Homo sapiens: one gene and its partners. The protein of the gene in region 1 binds, or shares a complex with, the protein of each later gene. Each region holds a gene or a part of one and is shown in the gene's direction. Other genes may lie near its edges. The genes, in order: RBBP4, CHD4, RBL2, MYBL1, MYBL2, CHD5 and RBL1.

Evidence for each region.
Region 2: RBBP4 (region 1) and CHD4 share a complex: the UniProt entries of both Homo sapiens proteins name them as parts of the nucleosome remodeling and deacetylase (NuRD) repressor complex.
Region 3: RBBP4 (region 1) and RBL2 share a complex: the UniProt entries of both Homo sapiens proteins name them as parts of the DREAM complex.
Region 4: RBBP4 (region 1) and MYBL1 share a complex: the UniProt entries of both Homo sapiens proteins name them as parts of the DREAM complex.
Region 5: RBBP4 (region 1) and MYBL2 share a complex: the UniProt entries of both Homo sapiens proteins name them as parts of the DREAM complex.
Region 6: RBBP4 (region 1) and CHD5 share a complex: the UniProt entries of both Homo sapiens proteins name them as parts of the nucleosome remodeling and deacetylase (NuRD) repressor complex.
Region 7: RBBP4 (region 1) and RBL1 share a complex: the UniProt entries of both Homo sapiens proteins name them as parts of the DREAM complex.

The regions. Positions count from the first base shown.
Region 1 is NC_000001.11:32,667,812-32,671,917, forward strand, and holds part of RBBP4 (histone-binding protein RBBP4), read left to right. Parts: intron 1-413; coding exon 414-587; intron 588-927; coding exon 928-1,043; intron 1,044-1,160; coding exon 1,161-1,321; intron 1,322-1,419; coding exon 1,420-1,546; intron 1,547-1,674; coding exon 1,675-1,752; intron 1,753-4,106. UniProt on the Homo sapiens protein: Core histone-binding subunit that may target chromatin assembly factors, chromatin remodeling factors and histone deacetylases to their histone substrates in a manner that is regulated by nucleosomal DNA.
Region 2 is NC_000012.12:6,600,675-6,604,780, reverse strand, and holds part of CHD4 (chromodomain-helicase-DNA-binding protein 4), read left to right. Parts: intron 1-2,283; coding exon 2,284-2,405; intron 2,406-2,605; coding exon 2,606-2,821; intron 2,822-3,014; coding exon 3,015-3,133; intron 3,134-3,250; coding exon 3,251-3,492; intron 3,493-3,727; coding exon 3,728-3,855; intron 3,856-4,106. UniProt on the Homo sapiens protein: ATP-dependent chromatin-remodeling factor that binds and distorts nucleosomal DNA. Acts as a component of the histone deacetylase NuRD complex which participates in the remodeling of chromatin.
Region 3 is NC_000016.10:53,465,471-53,469,576, forward strand, and holds part of RBL2 (retinoblastoma-like protein 2), read left to right. Parts: coding exon 1-132; intron 133-1,587; coding exon 1,588-1,699; intron 1,700-4,106. UniProt on the Homo sapiens protein: Key regulator of entry into cell division. Directly involved in heterochromatin formation by maintaining overall chromatin structure and, in particular, that of constitutive heterochromatin by stabilizing histone methylation.
Region 4 is NC_000008.11:66,602,613-66,606,718, reverse strand, and holds part of MYBL1 (myb-related protein A), read left to right. Parts: intron 1-4,106. UniProt on the Homo sapiens protein: Transcription factor that specifically recognizes the sequence 5'-YAAC[GT]G-3'.
Region 5 is NC_000020.11:43,673,182-43,677,287, forward strand, and holds part of MYBL2 (myb-related protein B), read left to right. Parts: intron 1-624; coding exon 625-718; intron 719-4,106. UniProt on the Homo sapiens protein: Transcription factor involved in the regulation of cell survival, proliferation, and differentiation. Transactivates the expression of the CLU gene.
Region 6 is NC_000001.11:6,173,341-6,177,446, reverse strand, and holds part of CHD5 (chromodomain-helicase-DNA-binding protein 5), read left to right. Parts: intron 1-4,106. UniProt on the Homo sapiens protein: ATP-dependent chromatin-remodeling factor that binds DNA through histones and regulates gene transcription. May specifically recognize and bind trimethylated 'Lys-27' (H3K27me3) and non-methylated 'Lys-4' of histone H3.
Region 7 is NC_000020.11:37,029,905-37,034,010, reverse strand, and holds part of RBL1 (retinoblastoma-like protein 1), read left to right. Parts: intron 1-1,134; coding exon 1,135-1,346; intron 1,347-4,106. UniProt on the Homo sapiens protein: Key regulator of entry into cell division. Directly involved in heterochromatin formation by maintaining overall chromatin structure and, in particular, that of constitutive heterochromatin by stabilizing histone methylation.

The DNA.
Region 1 (4,106 bases):
TGCAGATCTTCTCATATACTTTAAAATGTCTCTAGATTACCTATAATACCTAATATAATGTAAATGTTATATAAATAGACTATATTGTTCGGGGATAATGATGAGGGGGAAATCTGTACATGTTCAATACATATGCAATGTTTTTCTGAATATTTTCAATTAATGGCTAGTTGAATTCATGGATAAAGAACCCACTGATATGGAGAGCTGACTGTATTTCTTATTAGTTATTTAACTACCTGGAGTCACGGGGGTAGGAAAGCACTTTATAGTGCTAGCAAATGTATAGATTACATCTAGTATTATGCCAGTTTGTTGCTAAGGAAAAAAAATCCTTTCCTGTGTTCTTATACTCTGGGTAACCTCTAGAGTAGCTCTTGTTTTGTCCTCATTTGCAATTAATTTATTCACAGAATTTGGAGGTTTTGGTTCAGTTAGTGGAAAAATTGAAATAGAAATCAAGATCAACCATGAAGGAGAAGTAAACAGGGCCCGTTATATGCCCCAGAACCCTTGTATCATCGCAACAAAGACTCCTTCCAGTGATGTTCTTGTTTTTGACTATACAAAACATCCTTCTAAACCAGGTATGTGCCCTTTTCTATTCAAATACAAATGAGTCACTATAGAAATACATGGTTCCACTCACTGTGAGTTTAATTGCATGTTACTCTGTGTAATTTAACATCTTGTGATTTGTATTGATATGTGTATATTTTTCTTCATTTTGCCTCCATGAAAAAATAATGCTTTTTTACATAGAACAAAATACTGGTGCTGTTTAAGCATTATCTATTTGATCATAACGGTTCCTATATCATTTATAAATGTTAAGAGCTTTAGACATCTTGACCAAAATTCCATTATGCTCAGTAGGCCCAGAGAGCCAGTGGACTGGGTAGTCTTGATGTGTCTGTCACTTTGCAGATCCTTCTGGAGAGTGCAACCCAGACTTGCGTCTCCGTGGACATCAGAAGGAAGGCTATGGGCTTTCTTGGAACCCAAATCTCAGTGGGCACTTACTTAGTGCTTCAGATGACCATGTGTGTATCCTTCCCATTTTGAAGCAAATCTGGGCTAGTTACCAGTTGGTTTCTTTTTTGGGGTGTGTGGGGAGGTGAGAATCTTCCTTTTATATAATGGTTAATTTTACATTTAAGACCATCTGCCTGTGGGACATCAGTGCCGTTCCAAAGGAGGGAAAAGTGGTAGATGCGAAGACCATCTTTACAGGGCATACGGCAGTAGTAGAAGATGTTTCCTGGCATCTACTCCATGAGTCTCTGTTTGGGTCAGTTGCTGATGATCAGAAACTTATGATGTGAGTAGAATCCATTCAGAGTTTCTAAATATCTTGTCTAAGTTTTATGTTTAGTCACCATTTCAAGGTTTTTTTCCTTTGTTTTTTTTTCACTGAAGTTGGGATACTCGTTCAAACAATACTTCCAAACCAAGCCACTCAGTTGATGCTCACACTGCTGAAGTGAACTGCCTTTCTTTCAATCCTTATAGTGAGTTCATTCTTGCCACAGGATCAGCTGACAAGGTCAGTTTCGTTTATTTTAATAGAAAACATAATTTCTCTAGGTTTTTTTGAATTGCAGAGATATTTTACTTACAGTATTTTTTTTTTCTTAAAAAATTGATTACTCTTGCTTTTCTTTTTGTACATAGACTGTTGCCTTGTGGGATCTGAGAAATCTGAAACTTAAGTTGCATTCCTTTGAGTCACATAAGGATGAAATATTCCAGGTAAGAGAAACTAATGCTACTATTTTGTTTGTTTTAAGAAAAACCTGCTGGGCGCGGTCGCTCACGCCTGTAATCCCAGCACTTTGGGAGGCTGAAGCGGGCGGATCACAAGGTCAGGAGATCGAGACCATCCTGGCTAACACGGTGAAACCCTGTCTCTACTAAAAATATAAAAAATTAGCCGGGCATGGTGGCGGATGCCCGTAGTCCCAGCTACTCGGGAGGCTGAGGCAGGAGAATGGCATGAAACCCGGGAGGCAGAGGTTGCAGTGAGCCGAGATTGTGCCACTGCACTCTAGCCTGGGCGACAGAACGAGAGTCCGTCTCAAAAAAAAAGAAAAAAGAAAAACCTGGATGTATGAGTGGGCACACATGTGCTTTATGCCGTTGCTAAAAATAGAAATCTATATGCCTATGCTACTTTCTGTGGGAATTGTTTTTTCTTTGTTATTTCTATACTTTCTCAAACTGGTTATTGACCACTTACATTCTTCAGATATTAAGAAAACTAGGCCAGGTATGGTAGCTTATGCCTGTAATCCCAGCACTTTAGGAGGCTGAGATGGGTGGATTGCTTGAGGCCAGGAGTTTGAGACCAGCCTGGCCAACCCTGTCTATTTTTTAATAAAAATTTACAAAGAAAGGAAAACTAGTGCCTGATTATTTTTTCAGCCTTGTTTCTGACACTTAGTGATCTCTTCCCTTCTTCCAATATATTCTTCATCCTTCATTACTTGCCACATGTGTTGATTTCTCAACCCAAGCCTCAACCTCTGGCTCCATATTTTCTACCTCATCAGTTTAAACCCATTTATGCCTAGTGTTCCATTATTGGAACGCTAAGCATGTGGGAGTTTATATCCTGCTCAAGGTTATCGCCCAGGTCTGATTGCAAAAATTAAAAAAAGAAATAATCACTGCACTATGTTCAAAGCTTGTTGCTACGGCACTATGAAAGATTACGTTATGTAGCCTTTGCTATCAAGGAGCCCCCAATTTTTTTATTTTTTTTTAATTAATTTTTTTGAGACGGCATTTTGCTCTTGTTGGCCAGGCTGGAGTGCAATGGTGCAATCTCGGCTCACTGCAACCTCCACTTCCCAGGCTAAAGGGATTCTCCTGCCTCAGCCTCCCAAAGTGCTGGGATTACAGGCGTAAGCCACCACGCCCAGCCGAGCCCAAAATTTTATAGTGAGGGAGGGCTTGTTTAGAAATTACTATAATAAAAGATTTTGTCAAGTGTTATGAACCTGAGGGTGGTAAAGATTAATTCTGGTGTGTGAAGGTGGCGTCTGAACTGGGCTTTAGGTGAGCCATACTCCTACATACTTAGTCTCTTATTTTCTACTTTTCAGCCCACCTTGGTGAACATTTTATCCTTACCCTATCTCTTTGCTTTGCTTGTGACGGTATTCTTGCCTGGACAGAATCCAAATTCTTCCTTAATTGCTGGTCACTAATGCCCTCTTTTTCTGTACCTTAAGGCTAGGTAGCACTTTTACCATATTTGGTAGCAAACTCTGATTGTTGGATATATAGTAGTAAATTTTTTGTCTGACTCTTTAATAAAATTATTGCATGGAGTCATTTTTAATCAGACTTATATGTAATACAGAACTCATAGTAAATACTTGGGGACATAGTTATTGTATATGTCATCTGTACTTTAGTTCTTAGGTCAGAATTGGATTGCATTTGGGTAGAGGCCAGAATTAGCAAATAAGAATAGACAAGATGTAGGCCGGGCACGATGGCCCATGCCTGTAATCTCAGCGCTTTGGGAGGCCGAGGCGGGTGGATCATGAGGTCAGGAGTTTGAGACCACCCTGACCAACATGGTGAAACCTCGTCTCTAATAAAAATACAAAAATTAGCCAGGCATGGTGGTGCACGCCTGTAATCCCAGCTACTTAAGAGGCTGAGGCAGGAGAATCGCTTGAACATGGGAGGAGGAGATTGCAGTGAACTGAGATCACCCCACAAGAACAGACAAGATGTGATGTTTCCAAAGATAAAATGATGCTGGGCACATGGCACACACCTCCAGCTACGCAGGAGGTTGAGGCAGCGAGATCCCTTGAGCCCAAGAGTTCAAGTCCAGCCTAGAAGCAATATAGCGAGGCCTCATCTCTTTTTTTTTTTGATACCAGCCTAACCCCATCTCTACACAAATACAAAAATTAGCTGGCCGTGGTGGCGGACACCTGTAATCCCAGCTACCTGGGAGGCTAAGGTGGGAGAGTCGCTTGAACCTGGGAGGTGGAGGTTTCAGTGAGCTGAGATCCTGCCATTGTACTCCAGCCTGGGTGACAGAGCAAGACTTCCGTCTCAAGAAAAAGTGTGCCAAAGGGGTG
Region 2 (4,106 bases), on another chromosome or scaffold:
TTTCCACTTGCCACACCCCATTCCTGTCCCTTTCCTAAATCTTCTCTATATCTCAGTAAGTTTGCGGTTTGCCATTTCAGCATATTATTTGCCTGAGAAGTTTGGGGGGCTCCATGTGCATGGAAGGATGTCCCCTTTGCCTCCATGGGTTGTCTTTGTCTCCACTTCCAGCTTTTATGGGGGTGGTGAGATGTAGCTGATGGGGGTTGGGGGTTGACTTGGGGATTGGTGGGGAAAAGTCCTTAAGAAAATGATTCTTTCTGGTGAAATCCAGGCTGATGTTGCATTCCCAAGGGGGAATGGGAGGGGCGTTCTTGTGCCTGGTCTTATTCTGGGCTGAGAAGCAGGGAGGCTGATGGTGCTTTGTCCAGCCTAATGTCTCATTCCCTAGTATCTGTCTAGCTCAGGAAGTGGGGAGCCAGAGACATTTTAGGGCTAATTTTGGGGGTTAAGAGCTAAGAACATGTCAGGGATTGAAGGAGGGATATTATTTTCTTTTTTATTTTTGAGATGGGGTCTCACTCTGTCGCCAAGGTTGGAGTGCAGTGTGCGATCTTGGCTCACTGCAACCTCCGCCTCCCGGGCTCAAGCGATTCTCCTGCCTCAGCCTCCTGAGTAGCTGGGATTACAGGCACCCACCACCATGCCTGGCTAATTTTTGTTTTTTTAGTAGAGACAGGGTTTCACCATGTTGGCCAAGCTGGTTTCGAACTGACCTCAAATGATCTGCCCGCCTCAGCCTCCCAGAGTGCTGCGATTACAGGCATGAGCCATTGCACCCGATTGGGATATTCTCTTCTACCACTGTCTAGGTCCTGCTCTGTTTTTTTGTGCAGACATTCCCATATGTTGGATAGGAATCTGGGTGGGAGTGGTGAGGAAGCTGAGCTTCAGAGACTTCTTGTGGGCCTCCATTCCTCAAACTAAATCTTTTGGGTATCAGAAATTTGGGGAGAAGGTTGTATGCGCTGACCACAAGTCCACTGAGCCTTTGTTAAATCTCAGCTCTGATGATTGAAAAAATAATTATGATTGAGGGAGTGATCGAGTTCTTCTCTTAGTATTACCTTCATGTTTGTCTCGCTTTCCTTGGGTTTCCTTGCTTAGGATGTTAGGGTGGGCTCTTGTGAACTGTTGTCATCCCAGAGTAGGTGGCATTTGGACCTGGGGCCAGGTAATTTGGGGAGGCTTCTATGAGGGCAGTCTCCCCCCCCGCCACCCCACCTCTCTCAAACCCACCCCCTCCCCTGCCACTTCCTGTCTGTCCTATGTTGGCAGCTGGGTGCCCTGGGCTGGCTTCTGCGGTCAGGAGCCATTTTCCCTCTCCTCAGTGGGTGAGGCACTCCCTTCTTCTCTCCACTCCTTTCTCTACCCACCCCCCTTTGGGCGGGGGTGGCTTGGGAAGAGGGAGAGAGGAGGGAGGAGGGAGTCGGAGCCAGTGTGAATGTCTGTTACAAAGGAAGCTGCCTCCTGGTCTTCTCTGTGTCCCTTCCCACCTATCCTTGCCCAGGAGCTTTCAGTCTTACCCAGGCTTTGTGTGTGCCTCCAGCCAGGGGAGGAGGTGGAGCCAGATGGGAGGAGGCTTGCTGGGGGGCGGGTGTAGGGGAGATGGTGACAGCTGGGCTGATTCGGGCCCCTAGGGAGAAGAGGCTGCTGACCCAGGAGAAGCTGAGGAGGAACATTAGGGTTGGAGATGGGGAAAGGAAATTGTATTTTAGAAGTGGGCATGAGATTGAGCTGGCACCTGAACCTAGGACTTGGAGGTTCTGGTTAATTTGAGCAGTGATGACTTCAAAGTGGTTAGAGAAGGGTGTGGTTTCCGAGACCCCTGAACTGATCCTGTTCTGGGAAGGTATATTCTATAGTTTTTGCCTTCTGAGTAGGATCTTTCATTCTCATTCCCTGGTTTATAGAATAACTTGGTGGCCAGTTACAGGAGGCCTAAATCTAGTTCTCTTACTTGGTGAACTCTGAGCAGCTCAGTTCAGCTGTACTGGTGAACATCTAGAGGACTGGTAGGAACGGGAGAGAGGAGGCAGGGGTCTGGACAGCTGCCCGAGGTGGGCCTGGTCTGGCCTGGCAGGCCTATTTCGGGTATATACAGCTCTCTCTTTGTCTGTTTTTGTCCTGGGTATCAGCTTCCTCCTGTACAGAGTATAGCAGTTCTCTTCAGAGGAATCTGGGACAAGAGGTGGGGAATAAAGTCTAAAGCCTCTGGATTAGGGCCTAACCTTTTGCTATTGATCTTTTCCCTGCCTACCACTCTTTGCCAAATATATGTAGAAAATGAAGAGGACCCAGAAGAGGATTTGTCAGAAACAGAGACTCCAAAGCTCAAGAAGAAGAAAAAGCCTAAGAAACCTCGGGACCCTAAAATCCCTAAGAGCAAGCGCCAAAAAAAGGAGGTGAGTGGGTGACTGAATGTTACGGGGAATCAGAGGAAGAAGGGAGGAGCTCTGAGAAGGGTTGAAGGGCTGAGGGCATTTGTTTCTTTCTCAGAAGTGGTGGGCCATGTTCTGGGGATGAGCCTCAGGGCTGTCCTGAGGTCAGCATGTGTGTAGCATGTGTGTGTCTGTCTCCCTCTTCCCCCCTTGCCCTGCTCCAGCGTATGCTCTTATGCCGGCAGCTGGGGGACAGCTCTGGGGAGGGGCCAGAGTTTGTGGAGGAGGAGGAAGAGGTGGCTCTGCGCTCAGACAGTGAGGGCAGCGACTATACTCCTGGCAAGAAGAAGAAGAAGAAGCTTGGACCTAAGAAAGAGAAGAAGAGCAAATCCAAGCGGAAGGAGGAGGAGGAGGAGGAGGATGATGATGATGATTCAAAGGTGCCTGGACCTCCATCCTCTTCTTTGTACTGTTAAACTTTTGTCTTTTTGTTTCCTAGACACCTTACTGCCCTTTAGAACACTTTCTCTTCTTTTCCTCTTAACTCTGTTACTCTGATTTTTCCACACAAATTTGCTTAGCAAGTGTGGGCACTAGGTGGCAGGTACTTACTTGACTTTGCTCTTTCTGCAGGAGCCTAAATCATCTGCTCAGCTCCTGGAAGACTGGGGCATGGAAGACATTGACCACGTGTTCTCAGAGGAGGATTATCGAACCCTCACCAACTACAAGGCCTTCAGCCAGTTTGTCAGGTAAAACAGAAGGGGTTTGGGGAAGGGGGAGGAGAATCTTTCTGTTCTCTCTTCTTACTTCTCTTTCTTTTTTTATTCTTAAACCTTTCCCTCTGCTCTTGTGCATTTCTCCACCAGACCCCTCATTGCTGCCAAAAATCCCAAGATTGCTGTCTCCAAGATGATGATGGTTTTGGGTGCAAAATGGCGGGAGTTCAGTACCAATAACCCCTTCAAAGGCAGTTCTGGGGCATCAGTGGCAGCTGCGGCAGCAGCAGCGGTAGCTGTGGTGGAGAGCATGGTGACAGCCACTGAGGTTGCACCACCACCTCCCCCTGTGGAGGTGCCTATCCGCAAGGCCAAGACCAAGGAGGGCAAAGGTGAAATGGGGTTCAAATGGGAGTGGGGGTGTCTAGTGTGGGCTTAAGATGTCAAAGACAGCATGGGAATGCTGGTCTGTCAGCCCTAAGGTAGGAGATAGGAGGGAGGAATGAGTCTTGGATTTTGGAGGGAAATTTGGGAATCTGAATGTGGGGAAGCAAGCTTAGGTGGAGAAGATTTTATTTTCCCCATCTTTGGTCTTGTGGTATATATTTGGATATATCCTGATTTTAGGTCCCAATGCTCGGAGGAAGCCCAAGGGCAGCCCTCGTGTACCTGATGCCAAGAAGCCTAAACCCAAGAAAGTAGCTCCCCTGAAAATCAAGCTGGGAGGTTTTGGTTCCAAGCGTAAGAGATCCTCGGTGAGAGCCCAGCCCATCGCTTTAGGGAGGGTGCCATGTCTAATAGAAAGGATGTGACCTTCTATCAGAACCTGTCCTTCATAGTAGGCACGTAAGAATGTGGGGCGTTTCCCACAGAACAAGATGAGACTAGGCTCCCTGTATAACGGTGCTTGCTGGGATTCTGGTGTCCCCAGTGAGAGAGTACTCCCCTCTCTGCCACTCTGTCCTTCCCCTTGGCTTGAACGTCTAACCTTATTCTTTTTCATCCT
Region 3 (4,106 bases), on another chromosome or scaffold:
CTTTGTAGAGAGGTGGTAAAACACCTTAATCAGATTGAAGAACAGATCTTAGATCATTTGGCATGGAAACCAGAGTCTCCACTCTGGGAAAAAATTAGAGACAATGAAAACAGAGTTCCTACATGTGAAGAGGTTTGTGAAAATAACATCTTTTTATGAGAAAAATACATCAATATCTAATCTATTAATAATCCTTTTGGGGATGGGAGGGTGGCAATTAGGTTTAATATGTTATAATTACACCTTGTTATGAGAAAAATCTTGGACTGTAACGTCCCTCTCTACCCACAAATTGGGAAGGTGCCAAGAGACCAAAGAATGACTCAGACAAGTCCAGCTTGGTAAGTAGATAACGTTTATTAAGACTTACATATGGAGGAGGCAGAGGTGGTGGGGAAAAATAAAAGACTTATATACAGGGTACTCCTAGGTAGCAGCAGGACAGCTCTAGAGATCCTCGCCACCTCCCATCGCTAAGCTGCTTTTAAGCTAATTTTCTGGCTCTTTGCCTACTATGTGTGTGCACGATGGGACTGTTTTCCTTGGTAGTTTCTCAGATCTTCTCTGGGATGTTGGGGTTCTCAGGGACACCTGTTCCTTGGCTGGGCACCATGGCCTTGGCTCACTGCCTAGCCTTCAGGGTTTAGGCAGCAGACATACACCCTTAAGTAAGGTAGGTGACCTGTCACATTTCACCCCATGTCAAAGAGGAAACGAGTCAGATAATTTGTGGTTGTCCTAAGATTTTGGTGACAGAGTAAAAATTCAGTGTTCTTTCTTGATTTCCTTACCAAGTTTCTTTCCCATAGAGCAGTGGTCCAACCTTTTTGGCACCAAGGACCAGTTTCATGGAAGACAATTTTTCCATGGACAGGGTTGGGGGTTGGAGAGATTTTGGGATGATTCAACTGCCTTACATTTATTGCACACTTTATTTCTATTATTATTACGTGGTAATATATAATGAAATAATTATACAACTCACCAAAATGTAGAGTCAGTGGGAGCCCTGAGCTTGTTTTCCTGCAACTAGATGGTCCCATCTGGGGGCGGTGGGAGACAGTGACAGATCAGCAGGCATTAGATTCTCATAAGGAGCATGCAACCTAGATCCCTTATGTGTGCAGTTCACAATAGGGTTCACACTCCTGTGAGAATCTAATGCCACCACTAATCTGACAGGAGGCCAGCACAGGCGGCAATGTGAGCGATGGGGAGCAGCTTTAAATACAGATGAAGCTTTGCTCGCATGCTCACTTGCCTGCTGCTCACCTCCTGCTATGTTGCCCAGTTCCTAACAGGGTCCATGGCCCAGGGGTTGGGGACTCCTGCTTTAGAGTGGTTGATATTCAAACTCTCCAAACCAGTAATGAAGTTTGACTCATATTTAGTATCCAATTACAAGGTTTTGAATTTTTTGACTGCCAAAAGTTTTTTTTTTAACTTTATTATTAAAATGGGAAAGACAGCTGATTTTATTTAGATGGAATAATTGTTAAGATACTTTTTCTGCCTTAGATTACTATTGTATTTGTAATTAAAGTGCTTTTTTGGATACTGGCATTCTGTGTAACCAATTCTTCATAGGTCATGCCACCTCAGAACCTGGAAAGGGCAGATGAAATTTGCATTGCTGGCTCCCCTTTGACTCCCAGAAGGGTGACTGAAGTTCGTGCTGATACTGGAGGACTTGGAAGGAGTAAGTTTAAAATACTAGGAGAATATTTTGGGGCTTACTATCTGGAAATTTAAATTTCATCTAACCCTACAAGTGAAGTTAATAGGGTATACATAGAAGAAAATATTCTATGCATTTTTGTACCACATGGATCACTTAAAAGAAGGGCCTTTAAAGACTAAGAACACAGGAAAATGCATGATATAACAGGTATCTTTTAAAAAGGATAGACTGCTTTATTTATTTATTTATTTATTGAGACAGAGTCTTGCTCTGTCACTCAAGCTGGAGTGCAGTGGCCCAATCTCAGCTCACTGCAACCTCTGCCTGCCGGGTTCAAGCGATTCTCATGCCTCAGCCTCCTGAGTAGCTGGGACTACAGGCATGCGCCACCACGCCTAGCTAATTTTTGTATTTTTAGTAGAGAAGGGGTTTTGCCATATTGGCCAGGCTGGCCTTGAACTCCTGACCTCAAGTGATCCGCCTACCTCGTTCTCCCAAAGTGCTGGAATTACAGGCATGAGGCACCGTGCCCGGCTGACTGCTGTATATTTAATATGATCCCTATTTTTAAAGTGTATGTTTATTTATGAGCATACAAAATAGTGGAAATGGAAAAACCAAACTGTTAAGATCATTGTTGGGTGATAGAATTCCTGGTGATTTCTGTAAAATTTTTAAGGCAAATACATATTACTTTTAAAATCAGAAATAGAAAAGCCTTCTTAAAGATAGAGCTGCATGATCCAGTTAGGTATAGACAAGCCAGTGAGTTAAGACAACTGAGTATGTTCCACTTTGTTGAGCTGTGCTACCCTAGTTAATGTGACATTAGTGCTGGCCCAAGAAATACAGAAAAGGGCAGTTTTGCTATCTATCTGGTTTGTATTTTTTAGGCAGCTGCTTAGAAGATCTGCAAGGTGAAAGGTTTTAGTTTACATATGTGAGATAGAACTACTTTTTTAAAGAGCAATTCAGTAAATCCAGAGAGTTCTAAATCCTTGGATCCAATTAAAAGAATATTCTTATTTCTAGATCAGTTTTATAATGTAATTGATAAGAACTGGCTATAGAAGGAATACCAGTTTTAAAGTCAGGATTCACTCTAGGCTGGGCATGGTGGCTCATGCCTGTAATCCCAGCACTGTGGGAGACCTAGTGGGGAGGATCACTTGAGCCCCGGAGTTCAAGACCATCCTGGGCAACATAGCAAGATACCATCTCTACCCCCAACCCCCCCAAAAAAATCACTCTAAGTGTATACTTAATACACATGGATGATCCTTATGAAAAGTCCTCATTTTTGAAAGATCTGACAGCTGGTCTTTCTTAGTCTATTTTTGTAGAATTTTCCGTTCCCTAATCTACAGATTAGGAAGACTTGACTTTAAACTTCATTTTCTTTGTACTTACCACTTCTCAGTTTTCCTGAGATCTCTTGATATTTTATAAGAAAAAATGATCATAATCTATTCTTTCTGATTCTGCAGCTTTGTACCAAATACAAATCTAGTAAGTTTATTTACTTTTGTATCATCTGGAAATAGAAATGTTAAGCCACAGTTTGTTAGGATTTACTCCTATCAGTACTTCTTACAAACTTTCTATGTATATTTTAAATTTTAAAAACACTCTGATGCACAGCTCTTAGAAGTGGACACAGAAGAAGGAAGAAATGCTTCTCAAAAATTCAGACATTGGTGTGAATACTTAAAAATAGACTAAGCCATAATGGGTTGTGTACCACTGAATCATACACTTAAAAATGGTTGAATGGTAAATTTTATGTTATATATATAACCACAATTTTAAAAAACTAGCCTGTAATACCAGCATTTTGGGAGGCCAAGGCGGGTGGATCACCTGAGGTCAGGAGTTCGAGACCAGCCTGGCCAACATGGTGAGACCTCATCTCTACTAAAAATACAAAAATTAGCCATGCCTTGTGGCATATGCCTCTAATCCCAGTTACTTGGGAGGCTGAGGCACAAGAATCACTTAAACCCAGGAGGCAGAGGTTGTAGTGAGCCGAGATCAGGCTACTGCACTCCAGCCTGGGTGATAGAGTAAGACTCTGTCTCAAAAAATAAAAAAAATAGTAACAATTTGCCCCAAACCATTGAATTGTATAATTTAAGTAGATGAAATTTATGGTATATAAACTGTTTTAAAAAAATAAATTATGCTTAACTGAATCCAAATCATGCATGTCCACCTTGCTTAAGAACATTATTGAGTTTTAATAATTTTTTATATGTGGAAAAAGACAGAGATCAAAATTGATAAAACCGGTGGCGGAATGCTCCTAGATGACATACTACCAATCAGGTCCCCTTATCAAGTAGTGGCTCTGTAGTAAAATCACATCTTACATGAGTGGTAGGTAGAAAGTGGATATGATAGAAAATATTATAGAAAAATATAATAT
Region 4 (4,106 bases), on another chromosome or scaffold:
TGGACTATTGAAGTGTGTTGAACTGTAGAAGCAGATCATAGGGGAATGGGAGAATCTTGGTGTTTTGCCTGGTCAAATATGAAGAATTTTGTTCCAATGGAATTGACAAGTCAATGGAAGTTAGACGTTCCTACAAAGGATCTATAGACAGTATATATTAAATCTGGGCCTTCATTTTTCAATTTTGTAAGATTAAAATTACATAACTTACATAGATATTAGAAACTACTTGCATGCGCTTAACTATATTAGAGTAAGGTTAAACAAATCTTCAAATTTTGCTCTGTGAAATCAGAATGAATTTTTGAGAAAGAGTTGAATCTAGTAAGGCAAAAATAATTTTGAATACTATTAGGTGATCAGCCTATGCACGTAATACTAATATTGAGGCACCTTTCTGTGCCATGTGCTGTATGAGGTGTTATATATGTTTTCTCATTTAATTTTATCCTTAAAGCAGCACTATAAGGTAGGTGGTATTATTATCATTTTACAAACAAGTAAACTAAACCCCTGAGAGGTTAACATGTTCAAGGTTACAGAGTGAGTAATTAAGTTAGAACCAGAACCTTGTTCTGATTCCAAAATGAACTTGAGGTTTGTCTTTAGTATCTTCCAGCTTCCTAGCACTTTCCCCCTATTTTTCCAGTATGTCGTAGTATAGCGGTTAAGTAGTGACTGTGGGCAAGAGGTTACATTTCTGAGTCAAAGTTTCCTATTCCGTGAAATGGGAATAATGATAATATTCCCCTCTTCCAGTTGTGAGGCTTTAAGAGAAAAATTTAATAGACTACTTAGAAAGTTTTAAATAAATGGTAGACTGTGTTATTTTCAGATGCCATGACTTTATTCAGTCCACTGCCTACTCAGAATCCTCTAATTCAGTTTACTTATTTATTTATTGAGACGGAGTCTTGCTCTGTCACCTGGGCTGGAGTGCAATGGTGCAATCTCGGCTCACTGTAACCTCTACCTCCCGGGTTCAAGTGATTCTCCTGCCTCAGCCTCCCGAGTAGCTGGCATTACAGGCACCCACCATCATGCTCCGCTAATTTTTGTATTTTTAGTAGGGGTTTCACCATGTTGGCCAGGCTGGTCTTGAACTCCTGACTTCAGGTGATCCGCCTGCCTCAGCCTCCCAAAGTGCTGGGATTACAGGTGGGAGCCACTGCGCCTGGCCTTGTATTTCAGTTTATCATTAAGGCTTGCCCTTTTTTATGGGGCTTTATTCTTTAAAATTGCTTTTTCTTTTTTTACTCCATCAAAACTCAGGTTCTGACTTTGGCCCCTTCCTCACTTTATTAATTTTCCTTGGGTCATCCTGTGCCCTCAGCTATTCTTTGTATGCTGGCCAAAACTGCATCTCTACCCTAGACCTTGTATTTGAGCAGGTCCACATGCTCATTTGCCTTCTAGATTTGCTCTGCCCTGTAGGATAGCCATTAGCCACATGTGGCTATTGAGCTCTTGAACTGTGGCTAGTCTGAATTGTAATGAACTCTAACTACAAAACACACACCAGATTTTGAAGACTTTAGTAAGAAAAAAATATGTAAAACATTTCATTTATACTTTTTTATGTTGATTACATGTTGAAATGATTATATTTTTGATATATTAAGCTAAGGAATATTGACTATTGAAGTACATTTCACTTATTTCTCTTTTTTTAAAAAATGTGGCTACTAGAAAATTACATATGTGGCTTGTATTATGTCTCTGTTGGGAAGTGCTGTTCCAGACATCCACCTGTGTATTTTTCAAGTACCTTGAAAACAGCTAGTCCCAAACTATACATACTCTCCCCATTTTCTTCTCTCTCCCAAAGTTCTGTTTCTCCTTCTATCATTTTCCATAGTAAATAGCTCTACTTATGTTTTCAAAGCCAGAAACTTTGGAGTCATCCTTAATTCCTCCTTCTTCCATGTCCCTCATCTATCAGTTGCAAAATCCTTTCTTTTCTACTTTTTAAATATCTCTCAGTTTAATATATTTCTTTCAATTCCTAATATCATTACCTTGGTTGATCTATTTTATCACTTCCAGATTTTTGTCACATTTACCTGTCTTTTACTCAAGGATATGAAAAGTAGACTTCTTTTCTGTTTTCTTATAGTACTATTATGGTTTCATGTAAAAAATGTAAATAATTGCTTCACTCCAGTTTATTTTATTGTAAAGTAGGACACCATCTTTTTTTTTTTTTAATTTTGAAATGGAGGTTCTCTTGGTTGCCCAGGCTGGAGTGCAGTGGTGCAGTCTTGGCTCACTGGGTACAAGCGATTCTCCTGCTTCAGCCTCCCAAGTAGCTGGGATTACAGGCACATACCACCACACCCAGATAATTTTTGCAATTTTAGTAGAGACAGGGTTTTGCCATGTTGGTCAGGCTGGTCTCGAACTCCTGACCTCAAATGATCTGCTCGACTCAGCCTCCCAAAGTGCTGGGATTACAGGTGTCCACGCCCAGCCCATCTTAATTTTAAAAAATGGCTACCCAGTGTCTTAACACCATTTATTGAAAAGTCTACCTTTACTCCACTGATTTGAAATGTTACTGTTATAATTTACCAAATTCCATGTGGGTCTTTTTTCTTTTCTAAATGTTCTGTTCCATTTATCTATGTGTGTGTTCGTGTGGTAGTACCATTCTGTTTTATTTCTCTACAGTGTATTTTGATATTGGGTAGTGGTAATTCTCTGATTATTCTTTTTTAAAACTTTTCTTGCCATTCTTCTTGATTTTTTTTTTTCATATGAATTGTAGATTCAGCTTGTCTAGTTGCCTCCCAAAGTCTATTGGTATTTTTATTCATTTAATTTAATTTATGAATTAGGGAGAATGGACATCTCCCTAAATTAGAGAATGGACATATCTATAATATTGTTTTCTTATCCAATAATATGGTCAGGAGGCTGGGCATGGTGATGCATGCCTGTAATCTCAAGCGTGGGATTTGGGAGGCTGAGGCAGGAGGATCACTTGAGCTCAGGAGTTCAAGACCAGCATTGCGGGTGGAGCAACATAGCAAAACCCCATCTCTACAAAAAATAGAAAAAATTAGCTGGGCATGATGGTGCATGCCTGTAGTCCCAGCTACTCGGGAGACTGAGGTGGGAGGATTGCCTGAGCCTGGGAGTTTGAGGCTACAGTGAGCTGTGATTGTGCCACTGCACTCCAGCCTGGGTGACAGAGCAAGCTGAGACCCTGTCTGGAAAAAAAAAAAAAAGTCAGAATGTTCTTCCATTTGTTCAAGACATCTGTGTCTCACAACAGTGTCTTGTCACTTACTGTACCTTTATCTTGTATGTTAAATTTTTTTTATTGTTGGTATTGTTAATTGGATCACTTCTATTGTGTCTTTTAATTGGCTGCGGTTTATATTTTACCATTACCATTTGTCAGGCCCCAATAATTTCTTGCTTGGGTTGTTGTGAAGATTACTAATTGGTTTTTCTTTTTCAGTTTCACCACACTCTTGTCACTGATTTTTCTAAAACACAAGATATCTGTCTTTTGTCTTTTGCTGTGTTAAAATTATTTAACTCTTTAGAATAAAGGTCAAATAAAGAATAAAGGTCAAATTCCTTAACATGACGTACAAGGTTATGATTTTTCCCGTAGTGGCATATCCAACCTCATGTGTTTGGTGTCAGTAAGAAGTATAGTTCCAGGCCAGGTGCAGTGGCTCACGCCTGTAATCCCAGCACATTGGGAGGCCGAGTCGGGCAGATCACAAGGTCAGGAGATCGAGACCATCCTGGTTAACACGGTGAAACCCTGCCTCTACTAAAAATACAAAAAATTAGCTGGGCGTAGTGGTGGGCGCCCGTAGTCCCAGCTACTCGAGAGGCTGAGGCAGGAGAATGGCGTGAACCTGGGAGGCGGAGCTTGCAGTGAGCCGAGATCATGCCACTGCACTCCAGCCTGGGCGACAGAGCGAGACTCCGTCTCAGAAAAAAAAAAAAAAAAAAAAAAAAAAAATATATATATATATATATATATATATATATATATAGCTCCACCCCACCCCGCTGTCTGACTCTTAATTTTTTGTACTTTGAATAATTTCATTGTGAATATGACTTGTAGTCTGTATGATTTC
Region 5 (4,106 bases), on another chromosome or scaffold:
CAATCCACCCACCTCGGCCTCCCAAAGTGCTGGGATTACAGGTTTGAGCCACTGTGCCTGGCCTCTTTTTTTTTTTTTTTTACAGCTTTTGAAATCACTAGGGCATTCCTGAAAATAAAAAAGAAGAAAGTAGCTCTTAACCCTATTTCATTAAAAAATTTAAAAAGAGGTGAGGTCGGGTGTGGTGGCTCATGCCTATAGTCCCAACACTTTGGGAGGCCGTGGTGGGAGGATTGCTTGAGCCCAGGAGTTCAAAACCACCCTGGGCAATATGGTGAGACCCCGTCTCTACAAAAAATACAAAAGTTAGCCGGGCGTGGTGGCATACCCCTGTAGTCACAGCTACTTAGGAGGCTGGGGCGGGACGATCATTTGAGTCCAGGAGTTCAAGGCTGCAGTGAGCTACGATCATGCCACACTGAATTCCAGCCCAGTGACAGAGTGAGACCCTGTCTCAATAAAAATAAGTGAAGCAGAAGTGCCTATGTCTTAAAAAGAAGAAAAAGTAAGAGCCTCTCTCCCCCAGACCTTTCCCTAGGGTGGGCTGGCCGCTGCCTACACGTTCTCCATTATGTAAAACATATGGACACACCATCCTTGACCCTTGGCCTGCTTTCCCCATAGCGAGGATCTGGATGAGCTGCACTACCAGGACACAGATTCAGATGTGCCGGAGCAGAGGGATAGCAAGTGCAAGGTCAAATGGACCCATGAGGAGGTGAGTGCCATGGGGAAGAGAGGGTTGATGGCAGCTGGGGGCTGTCCAGAGGAACTGAGCCTGGAGTGTATTTGATGTCTCATCAGATGGGATGAAGAGGAGGAGCCGGTGAAGGAAGGGATGGGTCCTCTGATTGTCCTCATGCCTCTTCTCAGAGCATTCTGGGGGATTCTCAATTTTGAGGACTCAGTGGGTGGGAAGGGGATGTGTGTCCTAGACCTCAGGGCCCATTGTGTCTCCTGAGCAGCTGCCATGTTCTATGTCATGGACATTGATTGTGCTTTTTGCCTTTTGACTGCTAGGAGGTTTGGCCAAATCTGTAACTCCCCCCACCCTTTTTTTTTTTTTTTTTTTGAGACAGAGTTTCGCTCTTGTCACCCAGGCTAGAGGGCAATGGCATAATCTCAGCTCACTGCAACCTCTGCCTCCTGGGTTCAAGCGATTCTCCTGCCTCAGGTGCGATTACAGGCGTGAGCCACCACATCCAGCTAATTTTTTTTTTTTTTTGAGACAGTCTCGCTTTGTCACCCAGGCTGGAGTATAGTGGCATGATCTTGGCTCACTGCAACCTCTGCCTCCCAGGTTCCAAGCAATTCTCCTGCCTCAGCCTCCCGAGTAGCTGGGATTGCAGGCATGCGCCACCATGCCCAGCTAATTTTTTTTTTTTGTATTTTTAGTAGATACGGGGGCTTCACCATGCTGGCCAGGCTGGTCTCGAACTCCTGACCTCATGATCTGCCCGCCTCGGCCTCCCATAGTGCTGGGATTACAGGCGTGAGCCACTGCACCCGGCCTTAATTTTTGTATTTTTTAGTAGAGACGGAGTTTCACCATGTTGGCCAGGCTAATCTCGAACTCCTGACCCCAGGTGATCCACCTGCCTCGGCCTCCCAAAGTGCTGGGATTACAGGCATGAGTAACCGCACCCTGCCAACTCCCACTTTCTTTTTCTAAAATAATTAACTGTATTGAACCTTCTGACATCAAGCCCTGAATTGGTTTCCTTCTAGCTCCATCTTTTTATTTTATAATAAATGTGATTGAAATATAATTTATATGTAATCATATGCAATCAAATGCCCTTTTTTTAATTCCTTTTTGAGACAGGGTTTTTGCTCTGTCACCCAGGCTGGAGTGCCGTGCTAGCATGGCTCACTGTAGCCTCAACTTTCTGGGCTCAAGCAATCCTCCCCCGTCAGCCTCCTGAGTAGCTGGAACCACAGGCATGCGCCACCACGCCTGGCTAATTTTTGTATTTTTTGTAGAGACAGGGTCTCGCCATGTTGCCCAGGCTGGTCTCAAACTTCTAGGCTCAAGCATTTCTCCCACCTCAGCCTTCCAAAGTGCTAGGATTATAGGTATGAGCCACTGTCCCTGGCCAAATGCCCCTTTTTATGGTGAACAGTTTGATCAGTTTTTTTTCTTTTTTTTTTTTTGAGATGGAGTCTCTGTCTCCCAGGCTGAAGTGCAATGGCGTGATCTCCACTCACTGCAACTTCCGCCTCCTGGGTTCAAGCGATTCTCCTGCCTGAGCCTCCTGAGTAGCTAGGATTACAGGCACCCGCCATCATGCCCAGCTAATTCTTGTATTTTTGTAGAGATGGGGTTTCACCATGTTGGCCAGGCTAGTCTTGAACTCCTGACCTCAAGCAATCCACCCACCTTGGCCTCCCAAAGTGCTGGGATTACAGGCATGAGCCACTACGGTGAGCCGGTTTGATCACTTTTGACAAATGCATATACCAATGTAAGCACCACCCTGATTATCCCAAGAAGTTTTCTGTGGTCCTTTGTGGTCAGGCTTCCCCAGCTCCAGGAAATTGCTGATTTGATTTGTTTTGCCTTTTTCTTTTTGGGGGCTTTGTGTGTGTGTGTGTGTGTGTGTGTTGTTTTTAACTTTAGGTTCAGGGGTATATGTGCAGGTTTATTATATAGGTAAATTGCATGTCGTGGGAGTTTGATGTACAGGTTATTTTGTTACCTAGGTAATAAGCGTGGTACCCAATAGGTAGTTTTTTTTTTTTTAAGGCAGTCTCTCTCTGTTGCCCAGGCTGTAGTGCAGTGGTGTGATCTCAGCTCACTGCAACCTCTGCCTCCTGGGTTCAAGCGATTCTCCTACCTCAGCCTCTCAAGTAGCTGGGATTACAGGCACGTGCCACCACGCCTGGTAAATTTTTGTATTTTTAGTAGAGACAAGGTTTCTACTTGTCTCTACTAAAATGTTCACCAGGCTGATCTTGAACTCCTGACCTCAGGTGATCTTCCCACTTCAGCCTCCTGAAGTGCTGGGATTACAGGCGTGAGCCACTGCACCCAGCCCCAATAGGTAGTTTTTTGATCCTCATCCTCCTCCCACCCTCCACCCTCCTCCCACCCTCCACCCTCAAGTAGGCCCTGGTCTCCTTGTTCCCTTCTTCGTGTCCATGTGTATTCAGTGTTTGGCTCTTACTTATAGATGAGAATATGCGGTATTTGGTTTTCTGTTCCTGTGTTTGCTTAGGATAATATGTTTTGCCTGTTCTTGAATCTTCTATAAATGAAATCATACGGTTACATTCTTTGCGTCTGGCTTTTGCTCAGCATTGTGTTGGGTGATTCAGTAACTTGTCCTTTTCTATCACTGGATAGTAGTCCATTGTATGGGTATACCACACAGCGTTTCACCTGTTGATGGATGTTTGGACTGTTTGCAGTTTTTGGCTATCGTGTATAGCGCTACCTTGAAGATTCTTGCATAAGTCTTTTTGCAAATACATGTTTCCCTTTCTTTTGGGAAGATAGGTATGGTCATGGGGTAGGTGTATGTTTAGTTTTACAGAAACTGCCTTTTTCTTAATGGATTGTACCATTTTAGACTTCTACTGGCCTTTTTATTTTACCTCAGTTTTTCTTAGTGTCTTCAGTTCTTCAGTGTTTTTTGTTTTGTTTTGTTTTCAACCCATAGTTAACATCATAGATGTCTTTAATTTTAGGATTGGGTTTTTTTTTTTGTATTGTATTATTTGTATTGCTTTTGTTTTTTGTTTTTAAATAGAGAAGAGGGTCTTGCTATGTTGCCCAGGCTGGTCTCCTGGGCTCAAGCAATCTTCCTGCCTTGGCCTCCCAAAGTGTTGGGATTACAGGCAGAAGCCACCATGACTAGCTTGTTTTGTTTTTTCTAAAACTTGCTGTGTGAGTGGTAAACTCCTTTTAAATCATGAAAGATGTTTTTCCAGATGCGTGCTAAGCAAACCTTTTCTGCTCATCCTGTTGTGGACCAGGGACTATATTTGGCTCTTGTGGGCTTAGAAGAATAAACAAGACCAAGTTCCTACCCCAGAGCAGATTTCTCTCTGGAATGGAGAGATAAGACCGTGTGCAGGTCCCTGGAATGTGCTGTGGTCATCCG
Region 6 (4,106 bases), about 26 Mb from region 1:
ACCTGCCATGCCCAGCACCTGAAACCATGCGTTCCTGAGAGATGGTTGTGGTTTCAGTGTCTGAGGGCTGGGACTCTCTAGGTCACCCCAGCTTCTGGCTGTGAAGACAGCCCTAGCCAGGCCTCCTGTCAAGTCGCACTGCTGGCCCCCCACTCACCCTGAGCTCTTCCTCATAGCCCCTATGCAGCCCTGAGTCCAAGCTCAGTGGCGGTGACCCCCAAAGACCAGAACCAGCTGGTTCCAAAAGATGGAAGTTTGTGGCTGGAGGAGCTAGTGTTTTGGAAGCTGTCATGATGATTTTTCAGTCTACGGCTATTAAACTCATGACTTGTCCGATCTTTTTTCTTTGACTCTGCTCATCTCCCACCTCCCCCTGGGAGTTGCTCACTCTCAGCAGTGAATTATTGTTTCCCGTGCAGTGATGGTGGGGAGGGGGAGGTTTGCCCTGGCCAGCTCTGGCATTGAGGCAGGTGTCTGAGCCAGCTTCTAGGAGGAAGGCAGGGCGGGTGCCTCTTCTGGTTGGGGGACCAGCAGTTGCCAGATTCTCCTGGGAGTTGGGGTGGCTGGTTGAAGCCAGGGGTCAAGAGCTGGTGGGATGAGGCCTTGGCTTCTAGCTCTGAGCATTAGCTGAGTGGTCTTGGACAAGCCAGGCAGCCCTCTCCTCGGTGTGCCCACTTGTAGTATGGGGACATAGCACTGGCTACCTCATAGAGGGTTATTATGAGGAACAGTGAGACAGTGCATGTGGAACATTAGGCCACAGTGCCCAGCACATGATAGGTGCTCAATAAACTGTGGCTGGTGTAGTTAGCACCAGCCAAGGAGGGCAGCTGTCCTGCCTTCTCCAAGGAAATGCTTCTGATACTTGCATCCTTAGCCAGTAAGCTCAGGGGAGTAGGAGCCTGGGTGGGAGGAGGGCTGTGAAGCCCAAGGTAGGGGTGGCAGGAAGCAGGAGAGGGCTTCAGAAAATGTGGCTCTCAGCCCTCTTAGGGCCACTGCTGGGCTGGCAAATTCCCTGCCTCATTGGCCCAGCTTTTCCTCAATCACAGACAAAGCTAGTGAGCCCAGAATGGGCAATGTCTGGACTAGGCACCGTTACCTCTCTGGCCCCAGTGACAATTGGCCCTAGATGTGTAAGTATCTTAGGCTTGCTTCCTCAGGTCCAGGGGCCAGGAGAGAGTGACAGTCATGATTCCCAAAAGGCCATGACATTTTAGCCTGCACCCCTACCCCTGTGGAAGCATGGTTTGGTAGGGGGGTCCCAGGGAGCCTGATTGTATTTAACATTCTTTTCTGGGAGGAGGGAGACAAAATGACCAGCACACTTTGCCCAGTGGCTTGGCCAGTGGGTTATTCATTGTCATTCCAAGTTGATCAGGTAATAGGATCCATCTATCATTTTATCAGTTCATTCAGTCGCTCACCCATCATCCATCCATCCATCTACCTACCCACCCACATCTACCCATCCACCTACAAAACCAACCAAGTAACCGTTCACCATCCGCCTATCAATCCATATCCATACCATATCCATCCATCCATCTGTTCTTCCTATCCACTATTCATCCATGCACTATTCGTCCATGCTTCCCACCATCCATCCATCCATCCATGCATCCATGTATCCATGTATCTACCTGCTCTCCCACATCTACCCGTCGACCCACAAAACCAACCAAGTAACCATTCACCATCCACCTATCTATCCATATGTATATCCATCCGTCCGTCCGTCCATCCATCCATCCATCCATCCATCCATTTGTTCTTGTTCTTCTTATCCACTATTCATCCATGCACTATCTGTCCATGCTTCCCACCATTCATTCATCCATCCTCCAATCCATCCATCCACCATTCATTCATCTGTCCATCCACCATCCACCCATCCACCATCCATCCATCTGCCCATCCACCATCCATCCATCTGCCCATCCACCATTCATGCTTCCATCCATTCATCCACCACCCACCATCCATCCATTCCTGTACCCACCATTCATCCATCTATCCACCCGTCATCCATCCATTCATCTATCCACCATCCATCCATGCATCCATCCACCATCCATCCATGCATCCATCCACCATCCACTCATCCATTCATCCACCATCCATTCATCCATCCACCATCCATTCATTCATCCATCCACCATCCATCCATGCATCCATCCATCCATCCACCCACCATCCATCCATCAATCCACAATCCAACCACGCATCCAACCACCATCCACTCATCCATTCATCCACCACTCATTCATCCACCCACCATCCGCCCACCATCCATCCATCTGCCATCCATCCATCCACCTATTGTCCATCTATTCATCAATCCACCATCCATCCATGCATCCATCCACCATCCACTCATCCATTCATCCACCATTCATCCACCCACCATCCATCCATCATCCATCCATTATCCATTCAGCCATCCATCTGCCATCCATCCATCCATCCATCCATCCTTCATCCACCATCCATCCATCCACCCACCCACCATCCATCCTTCATCCACCATCCATCCATCCACCCACCCACCATCTATCCATCCATCTATCCATTCATCTTTCATCCATCCATCCGTCATTCATCCATTCATCCATTTATCCATCCGTCCATCCTCCATCTTCCATCCACCATTCATCCATCCACCCACCATCTATCCATCAATTCATCATCCATCCATCAATTCACCATCTATCCACTTATTCACCATCCATCCACCATCCATTCATCCATCCACCCATCCACCATCCATCCTTCCACCCACCGTCTATCCATCAATTCATCATCCATCCATCTATTCACCATCTATCCACCATCCATTCGTCCATCCACCCATCCACCATCCATCCACTATCCACCCATCCACCATCCGTCCAGTGTCCATCCATCTGCCATCCATCCATCCATCCATCCATCCACCCACCATCCATCCATCTATCCATCCATCTACCCACCATCTATCCATCAATTCATCATCCATCAATCTATTCACCATCCATCCACCATGCATTCATCCATCCACCTATCCACCATCCATCCATTCACTATACAATTATCCGTCCACCCATCAGAGACTTCTGGAATATCTTCTCTGAGCTGGGTACTGAACACAATGTGTGTTGTCTAACTTTCTGGGCTTTTGCTTATCTCTGTGGCTCTGTCCTTATTTCACTCTCCTTCCCTGTCTCTCTCTCTCCCTCTGTCCCCATATCTGTCAGTTTTCGTCTCCCCTGAGGTCATGCCCCTGCCTCTCCCTTTCTGTCTGGCCGTTTTTCTCTCTTTTGTCCCTCCCTGTCCCCCCAGGTTGACTTCCCCTCTCACCATTCTGTCCTCCTCCTCCCCACCCATGCCCTGGGCCTCTCCCTGCTTTCCCTGCACCCCCAGGGTGACTCCCCCCAGGCCCCAGTCACTTGGGGTAAATGCCTCATCTATCCCCGTCTCTTCCCTCCACTCCCCACTCAGGACTGATGCTTTCTTTTGATGTGACACCAATGAGGTGATGTCTGGGTTTTGTTAAATGTCATAAATAAATTATGAATCCTCTCTTGGGCGGTGTACTGCCCCCCTTTGCCAGCATAAGCCCTGTCTCATGGGGGGAGGTTCGAGGACTAACGGCAGCCTGAGAACTCCTTGGCCAGCGTCTAGGGTGGCCCTGAGAACCTCTGGCCCAGCAGTGGCCAAACTAGAGACCGCTGCCCTCTGCCCTTCACCACTGCCGCCCTGACCCTCCTGGGTCTCGCTGGGCTCTGCCTGCCATTGCTGAGCCCCTGCAGGCATCGTGTGGGTCCTTTGCATTCACAGTTTTTACTTCTCCCCATAGCCCTGGGGGAAAGGCTGCCACATTAGGCCCATTTCACAGATGAAGAGAGAGGCTCAGTGGGGAGGGGACTTGCTGGTATCACCTCCAGGAGGGGTAGCTTGAAGCCTCTGCTGCCCCTGTTGCTCCCTCCTCCTGACCTCCTGGTGGCCTTGTTCTCTGCTTGTTGCTGGTTGGGGAGTCCAGGTGGGGAACAGAAATAGCCCCTCTCGGCCGGGCGCGGTGGCTCATGCCTGTAATCCCAGCACTTTGGGAGGCCGAGGCGGGTGGATCA
Region 7 (4,106 bases), on another chromosome or scaffold:
GCCATGATCACGCTACTGTACTCCAGCCAGGACAACAGAGCAAGACATTGTCAAAAAAAAAAAGAAAAAGAAAAAAAAAAGGGGGCCCGGGGGGCGCCAGGCACAGTGGCTCACACCTATAATCCCAGCACTTTGGGAGGCTGAGGCAGGTGGATCACTTGAGGTCAGGAGTTTGAGACCAGCCTGGCCAACGTGGTGAAACCCCGTCTCTACTAAAAATAGAGAAAAAACATTAGCCGGGTGTGGTGGCGCATGCCTGTAGTCCCAACTATTCAGGAGGCTGAGGCAGGAGAATTGCTTGAACCTGGGAGGCAGAGGTCTCAGTGAGCCAAGATGAGGCCACTGCACTCCCACCTGGGTGACAGAGTGAGACTGTCTCAAAAAAAAAAAAAAAAAGTCCAGCTGCAGTGGCTCATGCCTGTAATCCTAGCATTTTGGGAGGCCAAGGCAGGCAGATGGCTTGAGCTGACGAGTTCGAGACTAACCTGGGCAACATGGCAAAACTCCCATCTCTAAAAAAAAAATACAAGCCGGGCACAGTAGCTCACTCCTGTAATCCCAGCACTTTGGGAGGCCGAGGAGGGCAGATCATGAGGTCAGGAGATCGAGACCATCCTGGCTAACATGGTGAAACCCTGTGTCTACTAAAAATATTTTAAAAATTAGCCGGGTGTGGTAGCATGTGCCTGTAGTTCCAGCTACTCAGGAGGCTAAGGCAGGAGAATTGAACCCGGGAGGCAGAGGTTGCAGTGAGCCGAGATCACGCCACTGCACTCCAGCCTGGGCGACAGAGCAAGACTCCATCTCAAAAAAAAAAAAAAAAAATTTACCAGGCATAGTGGCTTGCACCTGTAGTCTCAGCTATTTGCGGGGGTTGAAATGGGAGGATCACTTGAGCCCAGGAGGTCGAGGCCACAGTGAGCTGAGATGGCGCCACTGCACTCCAGCCTGAGTGACCAAGTGAGACCCTGTCTCAAAAAAAAAAAAAAAAAGAATTCAGTCATAACCTAGAATTACTATTTTGTAGCCTTCTTATACACACAGATATATGTATATATAATTGTCAAAATATATATAGTTGACAACTTTCCTAGAACATATGCAGATTATTTCTAATAATGCTTATACATTCAGGTGTCGCAAATGATGCTGGAGAGATCACACTGATACCTCTTTCCATGAATACAAATCAGGAGTCCAAAGTCAAGAGTCCTGTATCACTTACTGCTCATTCATTAATTGGTGCTTCTCCAAAACAGACCAATCTGACTAAAGCACAAGAGGTACATTCAACTGGAATAAACAGGCCAAAGAGAACTGGGTCCTTAGCACTATTTTACAGAAAGGTATGTGTTTTTATAGCACTTTAGAAGAATTTGTTTAATCAATGGAAGAAAGATTGAGTAACAGAGACAGACTTTGGTCTTTTTTTTTTCTAATATACATAACACAAAATTTACCATTTTAACCATTTTTAAGTGTACAGTTCAATGGTATTAAATACATTCACATTGTTGTGCAGCTTTATTACTACCGTCTATCTCCAGAACTTTTTCGTCTTCCCATTCTGAAATTCTGTATCCATTTCTCCCTTTCCCCAGCTTCTGGCAACTACTATTCTACTTTCTGTTTCTGTGAATTTGACTACTCTAGGTTCTTCCTATGAGTGAAGTCATACGATATTTGTTTGTTTTTGTGACTGGCTTAGCGTAATGTCTTCTAGGTTCATTCATATTATAGCTTGTGCCAGAATTTCCTTCCTTTTCAAGGCTGAATAATATTCCATTGTATGAAGAAGAGAAAAAAAGAACAAAAGAAAAAATATTCCATCATATGAATATACTTTTTTTTAATACCACATTTTGTTTATTCATTCATCTGCTGATGGGCATTTGGGTTGCTTCTACCTTTTGGCTATTGTGAGTTATGCTGCTATGAACATTTGTGTACAGGTGTCTGTTCAAACCAGGCGTGGTTGCTCATGCCTGTAAACCCAGCACTTTATGAGGCCGAGGCAGGAGGATCACTTGAACCCAGGGGTTTGAGACCACCCTGGGCGACACAGTGAGACCCTATCTCTATTTTAAAAAAAAAAAAAAAAAAAAGCAGCCAGGTATGGTGGCAGATGCCTATAGTCTTGGCTATTTTGGAGGCTGAGGTGGGAGGATCACATGAGCCCAGGAGGTTGAGGCTACAGTGAGTCGAGATCACACCACTGCGCTCCAGCCTGGGCAACAGAACGAGGCCCTGTCTTAAGAAGAAAAAAAAATAGCAACAAATATCTATTCAAGTCTCTGCTTTCAATTCCTTTGGGTATATTCCCAGAAATGGGAGAGTAATTTAGTATTTCATTTTCTGAGGAACCACCGTACCATTTTCCACAGTGGGTGGACCATTTTACATTACCACTAGCAAGGCACAAGTGTTCCAAGTTCTTCTCATCGTTGCCAACGTTTCGTGTTTTCTGGTTTGTTTGTTTTTTTGATAATGGCCATCCAATGGGTATAAAGAGACATCTTACTATAGTTTCAATTTTCATTTCCCTAATGATTAGTAATATTGAGTATCTTTTCATGTGCTTTTGCCCATCTATATATCTTCATTATAGAAATGTCTATTCGAGTCTTTTGCCCATTTTTTTAATTATGAGTTTTGGGTTTTGTTTTTGTTAAATTGTAGGAGTTCTTTATGTATTCTAGATATTAATCTCCTATAAAATATACTATTTACAAGTATTTTCTCCCATTCTGTGGGTTGCCTTTTCATTCCGTTGATAGTGTTCTTGACACATGAAAGTTTTTAATCTTAATAAAGTCAATTTATTCTTTTCATTTTTTGTCTGTGCTTTTGGTGTCATACACAAGAAATCATTGCCAAATCCAGTATTATAAAACTTTTCCCCTATGTTTTCGTCTAAGAGTTTTATAGTTTTTAGCTCTTATATTTATTATGTCTATTTTTTTTTGAGACAGAGTCTCACTTTATCACCCAGGCTGGAGTGCAGTCACGCAGTCACAGCTCACTGCAGCCTCCGCCTCCCAGGTTCAGATGATCCTCCCACCTCGACCCTCTGAGCAGCTAGGACTACAGGCATGTGCCACCATGCCCAGCTAATTTTCGTTTTTTGGGTTTTTTGTTTTTGTTTTTTTTTTTTTTGAGACAGAGTCTCACTCTGTTGCCCAGGCTGGAGTGCAGTAGCGCAATCTCGGCTCACTGCAACCCCTGCCTCCCGGGTTCAAGCAATTCTCCTTTCTCAGCCTCCTGAGTAGCTGGGACTACAGGAATATGCCACCACGCCTGGCTAATTTTTGTATTTTTAGTAGAGACGAGGTTTCACCGTGCTGGTTTGGCTGGTTTCAAACTACTGACCTCAGGTGATCCACCCACCTTGGCCTCCCAAAGTGCTGGGATTACAGGTGTGAGCCACCACGCCGGGCCTGTTTTTGAACTTTTTTGTAGAGACGGGGTTTCACCATGTTGCCCAGGCTGGTCTCAACTCGTGAGCTTAAGTGATCTGCCCACCTCAGCCTCCCAAAGTGCTGGGATTACAGCCGTGAGCCACCACGCCCAGCCCATTTTAATTTTTGTATATGGTGTTAGATAAGGGTCTAAAGTCATTCTTTTGCACATGGATATCCATTTTTCCCAGCACGATTTGTTGAAAGACTGCCCTTTCCCATTGAATGAGCTTAGAATCCTTGTTGAAAAGTCACTTGAGCATAGATATGGGGGTTTAATTCTGGGCTCTCTATTCTATTCATTGGACTATATGTCTATCTGTATTCAGTACCACACTGTTTTGATAACCATAGCTTTGTGTCATAAGTTTTAAAATCAGGAGGTGTGAGACCTCCAACTTTGTTTTTCTTTCTTAAGATTGTTTTAGCTATTTAAGATTTCTTGAGAGTCTGTATGAGTTTTAGGATGGATTTTTCTCTTTCTGCAAAAACATTGTGGAATTTTGACAGAGATTGCATTGAATATGGAGATCGCATTGGCTAGTGTTGACATCTTAAGAATGTCAAGTCTTCCAGTCCATGATCATAGGATGTCTTTTCATTTGCGTCTTCTTTAATTTCTTTCAGCAACATTTTGTAGTTTTCTGT